Linked DNA regions of Homo sapiens. The protein of the gene in region 1 interacts with the protein of each later gene in a pairwise test. Each region holds a gene or a part of one and is shown in the gene's direction. Other genes may lie near its edges.

Region 1 (7,154 bases):
GGGACTGGGTAGTGCCTCACTAGAAAATATCAATCTTATTCATTCCATTCTAGGTGGGGCAATGCTACTGCTTTAGAATAGTGGTCTGGTCTCTGGCATCAGGCTGCCTACCTGGGTTTTTGAAACCCAGATCTACCATGTGCTACCTGTGTGACCTGGGACAGATTCTTTAAGCTGCTCTCATCAGCTGTGTAATAGGGTTATCATGAAGATGAAATGGGTTGAAATGTGTAAAGTGCTTGGAATGGTACCTGCCACAGTGTTACTTGTAAATATTGAAAGGAAGGCATAGTTGATAGTATCAGACAGGTCTGTGTATCAGACCCAGTTCTACCATGTAGTTGCTAGCCTAAATAAGTTCCTTAATATTTCTTTGCTTTGGTTTCATCAGCTGGGAAATGAAATACTTCCCAGACTCAGAGCTGTTGGGAGGAATAATTGAAATAATTACATGGAAAGTGCCTGGCATATTTTAAATGTTCAGTGAGTGTTAACTATTGTTATATTATTTTAAACATTTTTATATTGCTTACAGTTAGACATCTTAGGTCATGCTACTATCTGGATGTAATAATGATGGAAACGGTAGTACGTTGAGGGCCAAAGACTGAGCAAAAAAAGATTTCCCAAAAGGCTCCCAAAGGCAGAGGAGGAAAACCTGTTAACAAAGATTGTGTTGTTTCTCTTGGAGTTCCAGGGTAGAGTGGCTGCCAGTGGAAATGCCTGGTCTTTCATAAACCTGTGGGGAGTGGGCTTCTGTGATGTGAGTAAACAGCGGGTCTTCCTGGAGCGGTGATTTCCTGGCTTCACCTGTCACTGTCTCCTTGTCTCCAAGACCTTGGCTAAGACTTCCTTTCTATATTTGAATTCCTCACTTAAAGTGGAGAAAATAGGGTCTGGTGGGATCTTGACTACTTTTTTTTTCCTTTCACTCTCTTGACCAGGATACGATCTTGACTACTCGAAATGCCGTCTGTAAGATGCTGGCAAGGCGAGGACACATAAGAGATGCTCTAAAGTGTGTCCTCCTCATTGCCTCAGTATTCATGGACTTCCCAGTAGCATACAACTATTCCTAATATTTATGTACTGACATTACATAGACTCTCTTTTATGTGGTTGGCAAATTTATTGTCCTCTGACAATGCCTCCAAAGTATCAAAGGCTTTTCAAAACTGTTTGGAAGGAAGACTGTGTCACTGTTCCTGGGTTAATATGATTTAATCATTAACTATCCCCAAAGAATAGGGTTGACATGAAAACCATAAAAAAACCATAAAATGTGGAAAACTACACTGAGCTGAAATCAGGAACAGAAAACGTTTGTTGTCTCCCGTAAACTTTCTGTGTTTACCCTTTCCTCCATTTTGTTCTGTGTGACATGAGGACACCACAGTGACCTATTTGGTTAGTTACACAGATACACACTTCAGATCAGTAAGAGGAAGAACTTTCTATGAATTAGAGTTGTCCGAAAATGTAGTAGGTTGCCTTTTGGGATACTGAGTTTCTTGTCACTGAAGGTGATCATTTTTTTTGGCATATTTAGTGCATGGTGTATGTTTGCTGGATGAGTGAATGAATTAATAAATGAATGACAAAGAGGATTTGTGTTTTTCAGCTGCACATACACTCATCTGTAAAGTGAAGATTACCTTAATGATCTCATAGGATTATTTTAGATTAAATGAAAAAACATGTTGAATACCCAGCACAGTATCTTGCATATTGCAAACTGCTCATTAAATAGTAATAATCATTATTTTTTATTTTATATTCTAAAAAGAATTTCTGCCTCAGGTAGAAGGTAGACAAGATGATCCACCAATTTGAGATTTGCAGTTTTTACAATCATCTGTTTACTCTTGTTCTCTTTGCCTTTGCCCTTCTTCACCTATCCATCTGAAAGAACTTCTCTCTGCTCTAGAAAGCCAAGTTCCTTGGCATGGTAGGCTGACTAGTACACTTCTAACAGTGGGAGCAAGTTCTATCCCAATTAACCGGGGACATTTTTGGTAACATCACTAATTTGTGACTTAGAATATGTGGACTTAGACTCCATGATTTTTTTCAAGTGACTCTTATTTGCTTCTTGTGTTTGACGCATTTGTCACAGGCACACAAAAGACTTCACCAGCAGCAGAGTCGAAACTCTCCAAGAATTTTCTTTAATAGCTTCTTGGCACAATAGCACATGCATGATGGGGAGGTCTAAATATGTCATTGCTATCTGCTGAGATGATTTGCATAACTTGCTTATGACTGCTTTTGACAGTCACGTGGCCTTTTCTGAATAGAGCGCAGCATGTTTAGGCTCCTGCATACTCGCATGAATACATGAGTCACCATGTGTTTTCAGACTCCTCATTAAATATGATTGTCTGACTTATATTACATCTTCCACAACATACACACACTCAGCCATTCTATCTGTGGCCTTTTTTTTTTCCCTTGAGGCCCTTTGCAAATTTAGTCTAACAGTCATCTCTGAAAGCATCTGTATTCTAACTTATTAATGAATTAAAGGGAAATTAATACATTTTCTAATAGGGTAGAGTTGCTAAATATGTAGCAATCTATGTGGCTGCTGTCTCCAAATATTTTTCCCTATTTCTAAGCCCTATAGAGAAGTGTTGGAAAGGATCGTTGGGAGCATTCACCCCATTCCTGCAGGAATACCCCTGGAAATATGTAACCCCTGTATTTCTAGGGCTGCCATAACAAATACCCATAAACTTGGTGGCTTAAAACAACTCCCATTTATTGTCTCACAGTTCTGGAGGCTGGAAGTTTGAAATAAAGGTAACAGCAGGGCCACACTCCTCTGAAGGCTCCAGGAGAGGGTCTTCTCTGGTCTCTTTCAGTTTCTAGTAGCTCTAGACATTCCTTAGCTTGTGGGTGCATAATTCCAATCTCTGCCTCTCTCCTCACATCACCTTCTCCTCTGCGTTTGTGTCTTCTCCTCCTGTCTTATAAGTGTCTAAGGACATCTGTCATTGAATTTAGGACCCACTCAGATAATCCAGAATGATCTCATCTCAAGATCCTAAACCTCATGACACCTTCTTAGATCGTTTTCCTGTAAGGTCATAGTCACAGGTTCTGGGGTTAAGACATGGATATATCTTTTGCAGGGACCCTCATTCTACCCACTGTATCCCCAGCTGACAACCATATACACAAGCTCTTCCAACTACTTATGGAGAGATTTCTTGTCCACTTGGAGGCTGAAATACTGAGCAAAGTACAGGCAAGGAGAGTCAGAATTGGCAGCCATCATCACTACCTTCATTTATTTCTATGTTCATGCCACAGTAGTAAGTGTTTTGTACTCTAAAGGCCTACTGAGTTCTTCCAGTCAACAGTGTGAGATATCTAATAAGACAAAACAGTAAAAACCATCATAGATTGCATTAGTAAACACATAGTATCCTGGTTAAGGAAGTGATCACTCCACTGAATCCTGAGTCCTCCAAACCAAAACAGGATAACTTCACTTCCAGGTACGGGTTTTCAAAGGGACCTTAACAAACTAGAAGGCATCCTGGGTAGATCTTTTACCACCATCTGGACTACCCAGGAAGACAATTGGAAGAACCAAAGACAAAGATAAAAACAAGGGAGGAACCACCCAATGCTGTCTTTAATTTGGGGATGTGTGTGTCATGTTTTGAGTAAGCAAATGTGATATACGTTACACTGAAAGGCAGAACAAGGCCAAAGGTCAAAGTAACGTGGGAAGCACTAGCTATTTGAAAAACTGACCAGTTCTCCATCAGTGGAAGTGTTTCAGATAGAAGCTGGTAGGTGCTGTAGGGATCTTGAAAAGAGGATTTTTCTACTTGGTGAAAATCTAAGTTCCTTAACCGATCAAAATCCTATGACTTCTAAATAAATCATTTTAAAACCTCACATAGAGGTCGTCATATGGGTCACATCAAGAGATCACTACTCTTCCTTGATTGACACATTTGCTCAGGTTCTTCTCACCTGGATTACTTCCCACTTGTCCAGATCGCATTTATCATTCGTGATCCTTCCCAAGGACCGTCTATCCCATTAACTTTCCTTGATTGTTCTGGGCCACATGCACTCTCTATTGTCTCTCCTCCAAAGCTTGTCCATGGCTCCTGTCTTGGGGCATTATACACATTGCCATGTATTATGTATTCTCTTGCAGTGTTTTTACATTTTTTTTCCTGTGGATAAACTCTGTTTTCATAATTAGACTTAAATGTATTGGAGATGAAATGGAATTCCCTACAGGAACTCCCACAGAGTTTAAGGCCAATCCCAGGCATGGATTAGGCAAAGCCATGACCCCTGTAGAATTGAAACACAGCCGGAAAATGTTGAGAATTCAAATATCTTTCCTCATCTTGTCCTTCCCTCTGTAAAACTTGGTTATCTGTTTTAAAAAAAACAACAACAACAGAAAAAAAACCATACACACATAAACACTTTTTGAAATTGTTTTTCAGCTTTGGATGAAAGAATGTCAGTTTGCTTCTTTTCCATACCCCTCTGATATCAGCTCTTCCCGGGATCCTTGGTGACTCCTAGCATGAACAGAGCTCCGAATCAATGCAAAAATACTCTGCCTTCATTTGTCGTTGTTGTTGTTGTTGTTGTTGTTGTTGTTGTTGTTGTTGTTTGCAGGGGGTCAGTTCTATTTCATCATGTTTATGGACTAGGAAATGGAAGGACATCTTTTCTGTTACAGAGTTTTTACAAACAAACCCAAGTATGGCACCCCAGGGGAAAGGTGGTAAAATCTCGTCAAGAGAAGGAACACTCTTCTCTAACCTGCTTATGAAAGGCATTCCCTGACTTCTAAAACTTGCGTCTAATTGTCTAGCCACTTGGGACTCTTTTCGCTTAACCACTTCCCTTGTTTTTCCCACATTCTGAACATCTATGTCCTCCTTTATTGACTCCAGATGTATTACATGGTCTCCCTTTAGTTCAATTCTCCTGTAATTTCTTGACATGTTTCTGACCTCTTTAAAGACCATTTAAAAGGGTTTTTTTTTTCTGTATTTTTGGGTGTTTGCAATACTATACAGGCTAATGTCATTCACAGATTCATTAATGAGTGGCTTAGTCCCTCTTCGAGATCATTGATTTAGAAATTAAGCAGAAGCAGAGCTAACCACGACCTTGGCGGCAGCCTGTAAGCACCTGCCTCCCCACTCTTTCCTCTGCAGTGTATTTGCCCCCCATCATGCACACACAGACACATCACCCCAAACTTCCAACCCAGGTTCTTAGTTTGAAGATAATTTTATTCCATGTGTGACTATTTTTATCCAGGTCATTAATGCTCCTAATTCTTCCCTATTACATGAGAGTCTGTAAGCTAAGGAATAGCCCACAGAACACTGCCCATCCTCTGTGTATGTTCATTTACAATTGGCCTTTATAAAATTGCCATAAGAGTTTGATGGCACATTATCGATCCTGTCAAGTCTTACTAAATTTATCTAAAATTTAAAATGTAATTGTACATTTACTTTGTTTAATACAGAAAGATAGACTTTGCCCTAACTTTGGCAATTATTTTCCCCCCAGTAACCTGATTTAGGAGTTACAGCTAGGGCCAGGGCAGTAGTTAGGCAGACATGCCTGCTGGGTGAATTATTTTAGAAAGAGAGATGAGGCCACCATTTGAAGAAGTGGCAGGCGCTGGTCTGTTTGGTTCCTCTGTGGGTATATTTCTGCTGTTCGTGGTCCAGGATGGTGTTTCTGACTGTGATGGTGATTTTTGCACTGAGCTGTCACCCCAGTGACCAGTTTGAAACTAAGCAACCATTCTGCCACATGGAGCTTAATCCAAATTTTAAAGCATCATCAACAATTAAAAAAAAAACAAAAAAACAAAAAATCTTAAGCTCATTTTCTTGAAGCTAAAAGTAACCTCAGAAATAATCTGATATAGAGTTAGCCCTTGTGTGTTTGAAACATGCTGTAAAACAAGAGGTTGGCTGAAGGGAGTAAAATATTTTGAATAACTTTTAAATGTGCAAAAATTCAAAGCAAACATGAATACAGTAGGGCAGAGCCTCACACTGTTTGTAAAATGTCACATTCCATGTGGTGTCCTTGCTGGAGAGAACTCTTTATTACTTGACTGGGCTCGCTTATGTACTCATGAAACAAAGCTCTTACAGGATCCGGTCGTTTTGTGATCTTTTGTGAGACCTGGCCCTAGGTTACATTCTTTGCTTCTTTGAAGCGAGTCATTCCTCTTGCCTTGTGAACCCTTCAGCAAACTGTTCACCTGTGTGTCTCTGTCAAGTGTAACAATCAGCTGAAGCAACAATCAATTCTGACCTTGGGTGAAGTTTAGTGGCACACCTGGGAAGAGTTTGTAATTCTACTGTTTTGTCATTGTAGCTGGCTGGCCACCAGGTCAGGTAAAAGGAAAATATCAAGATCCAAAAAAGTAGTTGGTAGCAGAGCTGCATCCAAACCACAGTTTTGATATTCTTAGGTTTCTAAAATTAACAGTGACAAGGTCATAATTAAGGTGAGGCAAGTGAGACACTCACCTTCAGGTGCAAAATTTAAGGTGCAGAAAAATTCAGTAATCCTAATGTGAATGCAATATTTAAAAAAATGCAAAATGAATGCAAACAATCCATGATGAACAAAAGATCAAAATGTATTCAAATAAAGACAAGATCAGTAAGCTAAAGTTATTTAGAAATTGTTTAAGATCATCACTTAGTTAAGAGAAATGATCAAACATGGCAATTTCCTCAATCAAAAACAAGATGCGTGATATGGTTTGGCTGCGTCCCCACCCAAATCTCATCTTGTATTGTAGCTTCCATAATCCCCACATGTTGTGGGAGGGACGCAAGGGGAGGTAATTGAATCATGGGGGCGGGTTTTTCCCATGCTATTCTTGCGATAGTGAGTAAGTCTCATGAGATATGTTGGTTTTATAAAGGGCGGTTCCCCTGCACATGTTCTCTCGCCTGCCACCATGTTAGACATGTTTTTGCTCCTCCTTCACCTTCCGCCATGATTGTGAGGCTTCCTCAGTCATATGGAACTGTGAGTCCATTAAACCTCTTTTTCTTTATAAATCACCCAGTCTTGGGTAATTTCTTCATAGCAGTATGAAAATGGACTAATACAGTGAGCAA
Region 2 (5,355 bases), on another chromosome or scaffold:
GTTTAATTAGATCCCATTTGTCAATTTTGGTTTTTATTGCCATTGCTTTTGGTGTTTTAGTCATGAACTCTTTGCCCATGCCTGTGTCCTGAATGATATTGCCTAGGTTTATGGTTTTGGGTGTTACGTTTAAGTGTTTAATCCATCTTGAGTTAATTTTTGTATAAAGTGTAAGGAAGGGGTCCAGTTTCAGTTTTCTGCATATGACTAGCCAGTTTTCCCAGCACCATTTATTAAATAGGGAATCCTTTCCCCATTGCTTGTTTTTGTCAGGTGAAAACCAATTTTTTAAGGCAAAAGATAAAAGAAGTTTCTTGTACTGATATTTGATGTCAGGGAAAAGGGTTGTGACAATGGATGTTTATTGTGCCTTGCCTTGAATGTGTATTGTACCTTACTGCTTTCAAAAAATAAAGTAGAAAAAAAAAGACAACATTGTTTATTACCAGTGTCAATATATGTGTTGACCTTTTTTTTTATTTTTATTTATTTATTTTTTTTTGAGATGGTGTCTCACTCTGTCACCCAGGTTGGAGTGCAGTGGCGCGATCTTGGCTAACTGCAACCTCTGCCTCCCGGGTTCAAGCGATTCTCCTGCCTCAGCCTCCCAAGTAGCTGGGATTACAGGCAACTGCCACCACGCCCGGCTAATTTTTGTAGTTTTAGTAGAGATGGGGTTTCACCATCTTGACCAGGCTGGTCTTGAACTCCTTACCTCATGATCCACCCGCCTCAGCCTCCCAAAGTGCTGGTATTATAGGCGTGAGCCACCATGCCTGCCTGGCCTTTTAACCCAAGTTACATTATAGAATTAAGCTAATAGTGTGTCTTGTGACCCCAGAGTTTTAACTGTGGAATTTCTGCCTCATTTGGGCCTTAACTTATTTGACTTATCGAAGTCTCTGCTTTAGCAAGTACTCATGATTCTTTTGAACTAAGTACACTAATAGAGTAGTACTATAGCCGAGCATGGTATGACATGCCTGTAACCCCAGCTACTTGGGAGGCTGAGGCAAGAGGATTTCTTGACCCCAAGAGTTTGAGACCAGCCTGAGGCAACAGAGCAGGACCCTGTCTCAATTTTTTTAAAAAACAGAATAATTTTTAAGAAAACATAAACCTCTTCTCTAAAAAGTGGGAGTAGTGAACTAATTCTTTCTAACACATGCAAATATTAAATGTTTCATATATATATATAGCCACTAGCATTAAAGGGTACAGGTAGGGCTTGATCAAAAACTTTGTTAATTCTCATAATTACAAAAGGAAGACACACTAAAACTGGCTTGGGGCTGCATTTGCTTGGAATTTGTGATCATTTAATTCATTTGAATACAGAAAGCAGAACTTAATTGGGTGGAAGGTTTTATTGTGTCTAAAGTGAAATATGAAAAAATATATTTTACTGCCTAGTTTATAAAGAGTAAGGTGATATTTATTTAAGGCCAAGATTATAAGACAGACGTTTTGTTCACATGGGTTTCCAGTGGAGATGGAGCAAGGGGAGTGGAGATGAAGGTAGAACTACAAAAAATGTTTATATACCATCTGTAATATTTTAATCCATTTCTATAAAATGTTTATCTAGAAACAGAATTATTTCCCTTTTTTAAATTTGTCTTTCTTTTTAGGCACTAACCAGGCTGTATCTGGACAAGGCCACCTTAATATGGAATGGAAATGCTGTTTCAGGGCTGGATGCCCTAAATAATTTTTTTGACACATTGCCTTCTAGTGAGTTCCAGGTCAATATGTTAGATTGCCAACCAGTTCATGGTAAGATCATGATCTTTCAAGATGCTTCCTTTGTTTTCCTCTAGTAAGCACTGAGCTTTTACACCAAAAGCAGCGAGAAACTTTTAGTGGTAGAACTATTTACTTACTTGAGCAAGTTAAATATTATGAAAAATGTAACTGTCCAGTCAAACTTTGGTCTTCCTTCAGATTCTTTCCACTAGTAGCTTTTGATGGATTATGTGATTTTGGCTTATTAAAAGTTGTATGAAAAGTTGAGATTAATGTGATTTTTGTAAATGGCAGGGAAAGATTATCTGATTTCTCTAAATAGTTGCCTGCTGGACCCTGAAATGTCTCCAGAGTAAAATTATACCATATCTCTGATTAATGTGTTCAGTATCTTACAATCTACTAATATTTCACAGAAATTTACTCTGTTATGTGAAAGGATGACTTTTTACAAGAAAATTTGATTCCAGGTAGATTGATACAGTTTAATAAAACCTCTAGGTGGGGTCCTAAGTGTCTTAAATTGTAGTTCAGGGTGATTTTTTTCCTTTATAATTCCTGAAAAGAACAATAGTTTAAGAAGCAAAGCATGAATAAGCTCTGTTAGAAACCTGAAATATTAATTCTGAAATATTTATATATATATGAAGCAAATGGTCCTATGCTAGATATAAGCTCCTCATTTTGAAACTAGAGTATCCCAAAGTTTTCTGGACTGAAAATAATTTTAATATCTTTTACTAAGTACTTAGTTTTCTGGGTTTGAGTATGCATGCTTAAGATTATGCTCAAGGGACAGAAAGTGTATGAAAAAAATTTTAAGCATTAGTCCATAAACAATGTATTTTAAGCCTGAAAATCTGCTTATTTAGAGATAGAAAATGATGTGTTCTCTTTTTTTTTTAATGTGGATGAAGAGCAAGCAACTCAGTCCCAAACTACAGTTCTTGTTGTGACCAGTGGAACTGTGAAGTTTGATGGAAACAAACAACATTTCTTCAACCAGAACTTCCTGCTGACTGCTCAGTCCACTCCCAACAATACTGTGTGGAAGATTGCAAGTGATTGCTTCCGTTTTCAAGATTGGTCTAGTAGTTAAAGGGGCAAAAGTCCATTCTCATTTGGTCCATTAGTTCCAGCAATTGAAATTTATGTGAATTATTTTGATTGTAGAAGCACTATAATATGTGCTGAAACTAAATTTCTTTAATATTTTCTATTCCTGTCAGCACCTTTTCTAGCAGCTGCCAGTTTGGAGCATTGCCCTCTAAGAGCTTTAAAACTATTTTTTTACATGCCTTATATACATTCCACTAATGACATTCTTATAATAATATTAAACACATGATCTTGGTACTAACATACTCACTGTGAACCCAGCCTATTGCAAAAATAAAATCTTTTTATAATATTATCTATGGGATGTCAGCACAATATAACACTCTGGGAAGAAGTGGAGTTTTTTGGTTATTAGGTTAATTTTCTAGTAAAACACGTTGCCTGTTTTCAGTTAACACTGGTAATGCCATTTTAATATATGGCTTTTTCAAATCAGTTCAGTGAAAATAGTACAGATTTAGGTTTACATAACTACTCTGACATACTGGAATTGCATATAGAGATGTTCAGTGGTCGTTTTTCATTTTAAGTAATTTTTGTTTTGGCATTTTTTTGTGTGAAGTAAATTAATCAACTAGAGAGGTGCAAAACGTTCTCAGTTGATATCTGAGTATTGGGTGCATTTGGTGGCTTAAAAGCAAAGCTTCCTAAAAAGATTTTTCTTGGCAGCTCCAGGTCTATACATTTAGGTAATGAATGGTAGTAGAACTAATAGCTTTAACAGGAGAATAGGGAATGAGAAATAGAAATCCAAGGCTGAAGCCAAAAGTAAGGAGGGTGGCCAAATGGTAAACTATTGGTACTTGTTTTCTACCTCCTAAAAATGTAGCTTATTTTTAGGATTTAAATCACTAAGTAAATAAGTATCCTTGCCAAGTGATCATGAGTGTCATTTTTGTTCTAAGACTAATATTTTTAGATCTTTTTACTTCACCTCATACTTATCACCAATGTATATCTCCATTTATTCAATAACTTACTGGGGTAAAATAACAGCAATAAACCTAACCTTTTAACAGGGTCTAACATGAGAGTTGGAGTCAAAGCCATTGTTATCTTTTGGTGACACCCTTAAATTTTAAGTCTTCCAGTCTTCCATGTGAACTTTAGGCCCAAAGTTTCTTATGTATCACACATCCCCCAAATAAGTGATTTTTTCCCAGTGCTTTGTACTGTCAACTGCATTATCTTTAATTATTTAAAGGTAGAATTATTTAATTTTGTGATTTGTTCTTCCATATGACATTGAGCAAATAGATCTGTTTCAAAATATGTTCCCGCTATGTGGATAACTCTTCTTTTTAAAAAGAAAATAGAGAATAGCAAATCTTCATGATAATCCTCAAAAGAACAAAATGCTTAACTTTATCTCTTAATTTCTAAAGGTAAATAACCTAGGTTCAGCTTTTGCTTAAACATTAAATATCTTTTCCATTTTTTAATGTTTGTAAGCTAGATATGCCAGCTTTGTTTCTACATTGCAACCAAAAACTGTTTCTTTTCACTTAATTATAAAACCAGTAATTCATTTACTCTTGCCCAAAACTATACACTGTATTTCTGTTATAGTAACAAAATAGAGTTATGTAGAATTGTATGGAACTCAAATTTAAACCATGCTTTCTTGTAGTACTGATTGAAACTTACACGTTTTATTCTACTCATAGTGAGCTTATTCTTATTTTGGATTGATTTTCCAAAACCACAGCTTCAGCAGCAACAATCAGAATGTCCAAATGCTGTCCTTTCCCTTACAGAGAAGAACAATGGTAACTAAAAGCTGCATATAACTAGCAATAACTACATTGAACGGTGTGCATTGTTCATGATTGTTGTGTTTTAAGACTTGTATATAAACTGCTTTTTCCAAACTCTGTATAACTTTTAAATGGCTGGAACTACTCGTATAAGGACTAGACTGTATTTTTGACATGCTCCTATTTTTGTAACTTGAAAAAATAAAATTTTGCCTTGTGACAGATTTTCTCAAGATTGTTTTAAGGTCTTTTGATTTTTGTTCTTAGGTTTCAGAATGGTTACTTGTTTCTTTACAATATAAGGTTTTTTAAATTTAGAAAAAAATTACAGTAGTGTGTTGACAACAATGGTTAACAACTTGGATCTTCTTTTGGTTCTTTCTGTAACCTGCCACATCTGTCTCCTTTTCCTGCCAATTATTCACATTCCTGAGATCATCACTTGTTTGAGATACCTGTAGGTTTTTGGTGAGAAGTTGGAAATCTTAACCTTGAGAAACCAGCTAAAATGCTATATTCGATAGGCAGTGAAACCAAAATACAGTTGATTTCCAGAAAGAATGGTTCATTAAATTTAATTCTACATTAAAAATATGTCAACACTACTGGGTAAATAACGAAATGAAGGCAGAAATAAAGATGTTCTTTGAAACCAATGAGAACAAAGACACAACATACCAGAATCTCTGGGACACATTTGAAGCAGTGTGTAGAGGGAAATTTATAGCACTAA
Region 3 (7,000 bases), on another chromosome or scaffold:
GAGTTTCACCATGTTGGCCAGGCTGATCTCAAACTCCTGACCTCAGGTAATCCACCCACCTTGGCCTCCCAAAGTGCTGGGATTACAGGTGTAAGCCACCATGCCCGGCCAATTTTCAAAACATTCTTGAGTGAACTGGTCTTTGTTGAATAAACTTAGCCATTTCTCTGATACCTAGAACCAGTTTTCATTTTATTTGTGAGAATTTTGATAGCAGCACTTCAGTGAAGAAAGCCATGAGTTGACAGTGTCAGCGTTTTCTGTTTGACACCACAGTGTACAGCCCAGGGCAGTTCCTCAGAGGTACACGTGAGGACAGGGCGTGAAATCCAGCTTGGCCTTTGCTTGTTTGGGGACTTCACAGCAGAAACAGTTTTCTTGAGTACACCATTCTTTATAGACCTTACAAATGCTATAGCATGTCATTTATTGGTAAAATTTTTAGACTCAATAGAGAAGCTTTTTTTTTATAGTTTATCACAAAACCTCTTCAGGATATGAAAAGTCATCTCTTGTGTCCACTTATTGCGCGGTTTGGGAATAGAGCCTTTTAAATTTCTTATACTATATCTTGTGCTAAAAACGTCTTGTAATTTCACATGCAGGCATTATGAGATCCTTGCCCACTGTGTGACTTTTCTTCCTCTGGGCATTAAGCTCTGCTACTAAGTAATTTCCTTTTTGAGCCTTTTTTAAGTGAACATTACTTTAGAAAAAAAAAAAGCTTTACTCTATTTTAAATGGCCATTAGGATATCAAAATAATCGGTGTCTTTACTTATCAATGGTTGTGACTTGTAGTTGCGATTTCTCGATTTTGTTGGATCCATTGCTGCATTGATAAAGTGTTTTTCACAGATGAGGCAACTTGGAAATTATCCATCCAGGTACAACCATATTAATAAGTAGGTCTCATCATTAAATGGACTTTTTTGTTTTTCCCAGTGCACTAGTGCAGTGAAATGATTCAGAAGCTTGAAATTCATTGTTTTTACTTAGGGAGAATTGTCTCTATGCTTAGGCTTAGAACCTTCCTCTCCTAGCTCATACCTCTTCTTTAGAAATCACATTGAATTGAAAAATTTCCTCCAGTTTTCTTTGCTACAAGTAGAGCATGTTTGCTTCAGCTGTTGGTGCATAAGGGAAGGTTGGGGCAGGTAAAGCTGAAGAGGCTGACGTCAGACTGCTGTATAGAGCTCATCAGCTACCAGTGGCTTCCCCTGTCTCCTGAAAAAAAAAATACTAAATGGACCAAGTCAAGTGAACATAATCTTAACTGCTTACTGCCATATGAGGCTCAAAGACCTATAATAAAATTGCTATAGGGGCTGCATAGTCTCTTTCCATCACTGTGAACCTGCATTGCTCAGTGTACAAAGCCCATTGCAGGGGCTGCAGATGGTGTAGTATTATCCTCGTATTTTATTGTCTTTAGTGCATATTTAAAGGCAGTGCATTGATAGAAATCACTCTTTTGCGTGGAGCTCCTAGCGAGTTCAGGGACACCCTGGGATTCCACAGAACCCAGGTTGAGAAATCTTGATTTAGACAGTTGTAGCCATACAGAGCTTTTCATATTTAGAAGTGTGAGGCAGAAATAATGCATCCCTTCCCAAAGATGTCCACATCCCAATCCTCAGAATCTGTGCATATGTTTCTTACATTACACGGCAACAGAGACTTTGCAGATGTGATTATGTGAAGGACCTTGAGATGGGGAGGTCATTTCACAGCTCCTGTGTAGGCTCTATGGACAATGAAGAAATGGCCAAATGAGGTGTGGTGGTTACAAGCATGGAATCCCGTGCCAAACTGCTATATGATTGTGGGCAGATTACTTAACTTTTCTGTCTTAGTTTTCACTTCTGAAAAAATGGGACACCTTGTTATAGGGTGCTATAGCACCTGTGTTATAGGGTTGTTGGGAGGATTAAATGAGTTAGTACATGTAAAGGATTAGAACAGTGCCTGGCACACCCTGACATGTTCTGTAAAAGTTGGCTGTTTATTATTTATGCAGCTTTTCCATATGGAAGAACATTTATTATTTCTGATCCTCACTTTAGATCTAACAGCAAATGATCTAGCTGGAAACACGCAGTTTTTCATGGCTCATGTATGATTTCTTTTCTTACTTCAGTTACAGTCTTCAAGTTTTATAAATGTAGTTACTTATTCTCATATTACTCTATACAGTTGAATGTGTTCATTCTTCTTTTAGAAATCTTGCTTTTAATACATTGCCTTGATTTTTAATTATTGTATGTTTTTATCTTTGATACACAAATATGTTAACTTTTTCATCTAACCCTGGAATGGTGTGGTATTATCCTAGTATTTTATCTTCTTTCGTGCATATTATATAAGGCAGTACATTGATATATGTTTTCAGGCCACATGTTTATAGAGCATAATAACCTCTAGAACTGTAAAATTCATTTATCATTCAACAAATGATAAAAGAGTTCTAAAACAAAGATCTCTTTATTACTAGTGAAAACAATACAAAAATGAACAGTTACTCATCCCGTCTTTCAGGATGCTCACCATGTAAGACAGAGCCAAAAAAAGTACATCATCATGGTTAGAGGTGGACACAGTATATTATGAGTGAACGAAAAAAGGACTGACAGAGTTTAGCAAAGGTAATCTAGCCAGAACTGAGACTCAAAGGGAGTGTAGGAGTTGACTAGGCAGGGAGAGAGCACATTAGAAACCACTGAGAAATACACCTTTCTCTATTACCTGTCGTCTTAATCACATAGCTTCAGCTGTTCCTTAGTAAAGATAAAACTACTGAACCTTCATGGTGGAGATGAAATGTTTTATGTTCTACCTTGAATTAGGGAAGAACTGAATAAATTAAGTATCTTTCCAGCTTGGAATCACTGCCTCCATATTACATTGTTAGAAATATATTTAGTAGTTAGATTAAACCTTATTATATTCTCAGGCAAAAAAAAAGTTTGTTGGTAAGGAAGAAAGAAATGTCAGCCTCATTATTTCAACTAAAAGATCTAGACAATTACAGGTTATGAAACTGATTCACCTAAAGGTAGAAGAATTTTTAATGTTTACTTGGGAGAAAATAGTCTATCATAAAAAGAACTTGTCTCTTTTGTCTGTCAGAAAACACCATAATCAAAATCAAAATGACAAACGACTAATATTCTTAATATATAAAGAAAATTTTAAGTTGTGACAACAAAGACCCCAAACACATTAGAAAATTGGGCAAAAGACATGAACAGATAGTACACACACACACACACACACACACACACACACACACCCCAAGATATACAAATAGCTCTTAAATGTATTAGAAGATACTCAACTTTACATATGATAAAAGACATGCAGATGCCTTATATGGCAGTTCCCTGTTGCTGAGACAACAGGGAAATGGGCTCATTTATCACTGGTGGGAATAGAAAGTGGTAATAGTCCCTTTAAAGGAGAGTTCAGCAATAGCTCAGCAACAACAAAAATATACAATTTTTCTTAGTTTAGCAATCCTGTTCCTAGGAATTTACTCTGAAGATACACCTCCAATAATGTGTAAAAAATTTTTTTTTAAATACTTACATATACACCAGGTTCTCTATTGAGGTGTTTTTGGTAATAGTAATATATTAGAAACAACCTAACTGCCATACGAAGATTGGCTGAATAAATAGCCAATACATGGACTATTACAGAAAATAATTAGGAAAATCTCCATGAACTATTGAGTGATTTTTTTTTTCAGAATATATTGTTAAATCAGCAAGATACATATATCAAGGTAATTCACATTAGCAGATTAAGGAGAAGAATCCCATGATCTCAAGAGATGCAGAAAAATTTTTCAATTACATTCTAATTTCTTTCATGATTTTAAAACTTTCTTAGCAGACCAAGAACAGAACATTCTTAATCTGATAAAAGGTAGCTGTAATGACATTTAGCGCCTCAGTCATATTTAATGATAAAATGGAAAGCTTTCCTTTTCAGATCAGGAACAAAACAAGGGTGCCTCCTGTTAACTATTTTCCTCAACAGTGCTTTAGAAGTTCTGGCCAGTGTACTAGTATAAGAAAAAGAAATAAAATATAAAAATTAGAGGGGGGGAAACCTGTCCCTTTATTTGCAGATGTTATGAATATGTATTTAGAACATGAAAGAGAACCTATGGATAAGTCATTAGTATTAATAAGAGAGTAGGGTTCCTGAGTATAAAATCTGTACATAAAAATCAGTTCTTCCTGCCAGCAGAGGTATTATTAAAAAATCGATCCTCTCTCTTTAAATAAGCAATAAGTGCTCAGAAAATGAAATATTATAACGTCTATAATAGTATCAGAAAATATCAAGTATCTTATAATAAACCCAACAAAAGAAGTATAAGACTTTTGTGAAGAAAAGAAAAAAATTCTATTGAGAAAATTAAGAAGTCTTTAAAAAGTTGAGAGATATCAGTTGATGGATTGGAAGAAGCAATTTCTAAAGATGTGGTTCTTTCTAAAATTGATCTAAACTTCATTGCAATTTCAACGGATGGGTTTTTTTTTGTTTGTTTTTTTTTGTGGTTTTTTTGCTTCAGTGTTCATAAGGAAAAGAATGGGAAATTAGACTGTAAAATTATTCCATTAAATACACAATTATTAAGTTGTAAATTATTTCCTATATCAATAGTAACTAGTGGCAAATGCCTGTAGTCCCTGGTACTCGGGAGGCTGAGGTGGGAGGATCGCTTGAACCTGGGAGGTCGAGGCTGCAGTGAGCTGTGATTGTGCCACTGCACTCCAGCCTGGGTGACAGAGTGAGACACTGTGTCAAAAAAAAAGTAAAGCATTTGTTGATCAACTCTGGTATTATATTTCTCAAATGTTAGGATAATATAACAAATATTTTTAAAGTTTTTTCTTCTACCACTTCATATTGAGATGAGAAGTATATTATATAAATGAGCATATACAAAGTGTATGTATGTGAGTTTATTATTAATTATGTGGTAATTTATAATTGGGCTTCCTGGAGTGACTTAAATTTCTGCCAGACTTGAATAATTTCTGCTTTAGTGGTGACTATGAGACATGGAAGTGCAGATTTCTCTTACATATAATTAAACATTTGGAAAAATAATGCCAAGCGTTTGGGAGTTTCGGGAACCAAAATAATGCCTGGCTAGTTACTAAGTCAGTTACAAGCAAGGCTGTATCTTCTCTGTGTTCATTAAAATGTTTACTGTGAAATGATATGGAGCTTTTATTGCTTTTTCTCTGTTGCCAGGTACTTTATTACCAAGGTTGCCATCGGAACCAGGAATGACATTACTCACTATCAGAATTGAGAAAATTGGTTTGAAAGATGCTGGGCAGTGCATCGATCCCTATATTACAGTTAGTGTAAAGGGTAAGTGACTCTGTTTACTTTTTTTTTCTCAGGTGAATTTTATAATGTTGCTTCTCATTTGGGACAGTTTTATTTTGGTGGTGGGGCGGGGAGTCTTATGTATGTGACAACTCATTTTAGTTCATTCTATCATGAGGCAAAGTCCCTGGAAGAGGTCATCACTTCTTCACAGAACACTTCTGAGAGATTTACTTATTTTCTTATTTATAACTTACATTGTTTTGCTTTTGAGTTTTTCTTTGTGTGTATCTTTTTATTCTTAACATCCCATCTGGGGTGCTGGCTACACATCTTTAACAGCAGATACATCCTTTAGGATACAGGTTAACAGAATGTCCCTCACCTTCCAAAGATGTGTAGGTTTGTTTGCAAAGCCCAGTGTTCTGTTTCCCGATTCCTCCTGCATTAGGCCTTCTCCTTCCTGTCCAAGAGAGAGGTCTACATTGGAGAGTCCTACAAAGGTGGATGAGAATCAGGCCTTAAGTGAATCATCAGTGAGGACAGGAAGCAAGGATAGATCCATAGTATGCATGCTCTGAATGTAATCCTATGGAGCATTCAACAAGTGAAGTATTTCTTATCCTTAACTATGTTACTGTGGTTAGGAAGCATGATTATTCTTAGGATTTGGTTTTTTTCTCCTATCCAGTGTGGCAGTTCATTTATTCCTTAAAAACAACATTTTCAGTCTTTCAAAGGGAAACCACATTGGTTGAATTCTTTTATTGTTGCCAAACATTTTATACAGTACTTTATTTATGAAGTAGTTAACAGTCTTTTAAAAATAATTATTGGGTGATTGAGAATGAAGTTGTCATACTCCTATCCAGAAACAACTGCACAGCTAATCCAAGTGGTTTACTTTAATCTGTAATTTGAGGCAAGTCAGAGAAACAGATAGGGGCTGAAATCAAATGAAGAGAACTTTTGTCAGTCATAGAAATAAATTCAGATTCAAAAGTTCATTAGTACCAATTAAAATAAAAAGGAATTCTGCCACAGAGAGGGATTATTTGGAGACCGTGATCCACAGCATTAATGCTGTGAAACTTTAACTTCTGATGTTATCAGGTATCAAATATATGGCCTACTGGAAAGTATATATACTCTACATTATAGTTTGATAGGTCATTTACAGAACTGCGTAACTCATGCAGGAATGTACACCAAAACAAAAAGATGTTTAATGATAGTGTAGTAACTGTTAAGTTACCTTTGCATACATGTTGAACTAAAACATGTTTTTGTAAATATCTTTAAGAACTGAAACAATCAATGTACTATATTGTTTTAAGTTCTCTAAGACAAATCTGTTGAATAATACATAAACACTTGAGTAGTCATTAAATGAGTCCATGTTGAATTTGATTAAACTGGAAGATTCCTGGGTCCAGGAAATTAAAACCATACACAATAACTTAGTGTTCTTTCTAGTTGGTATAAAACAGGTTGTTACAACAAATATAATGAGAATTTAGATAATATTTGTAAAAACGTATTCATTGATGGAAGGGTTTCATTGGCAATTTTCATGTCCATTTTTGGTCCTTTGACTTGAATACAGCAGGGGGATTCTGATAATGTTAGATTTAAAGGTCTTTCCA

Evidence for each region. Proteins that work in one complex are often made in the same cells at the same time.
Region 2: the proteins of LNX1 (region 1) and NXT2 interact in binary tests that used the Homo sapiens proteins (3 or more experiments, as listed by UniProt).
Region 3: the proteins of LNX1 (region 1) and AIDA interact in binary tests that used the Homo sapiens proteins (3 or more experiments, as listed by UniProt).

Annotation. Positions count from the first base shown.
Region 1 is NC_000004.12:53,581,433-53,588,586, reverse strand, and holds part of LNX1 (E3 ubiquitin-protein ligase LNX), read left to right. Parts: intron 1-7,154.
Region 2 is NC_000023.11:109,539,844-109,545,198, forward strand, and holds the end of NXT2 (NTF2-related export protein 2), read left to right. Parts: intron 1-1,631; coding exon 1,632-1,776; intron 1,777-2,663; coding exon 2,664-2,845; 3' UTR 2,846-4,855; downstream 4,856-5,355. UniProt on the Homo sapiens protein: Regulator of protein export for NES-containing proteins. Also plays a role in mRNA nuclear export.
Region 3 is NC_000001.11:222,674,492-222,681,491, reverse strand, and holds part of AIDA (axin interactor, dorsalization-associated protein), read left to right. Parts: intron 1-5,273; coding exon 5,274-5,396; intron 5,397-7,000. UniProt on the Homo sapiens protein: Acts as a ventralizing factor during embryogenesis. Inhibits axin-mediated JNK activation by binding axin and disrupting axin homodimerization. This in turn antagonizes a Wnt/beta-catenin-independent dorsalization pathway activated by AXIN/JNK-signaling.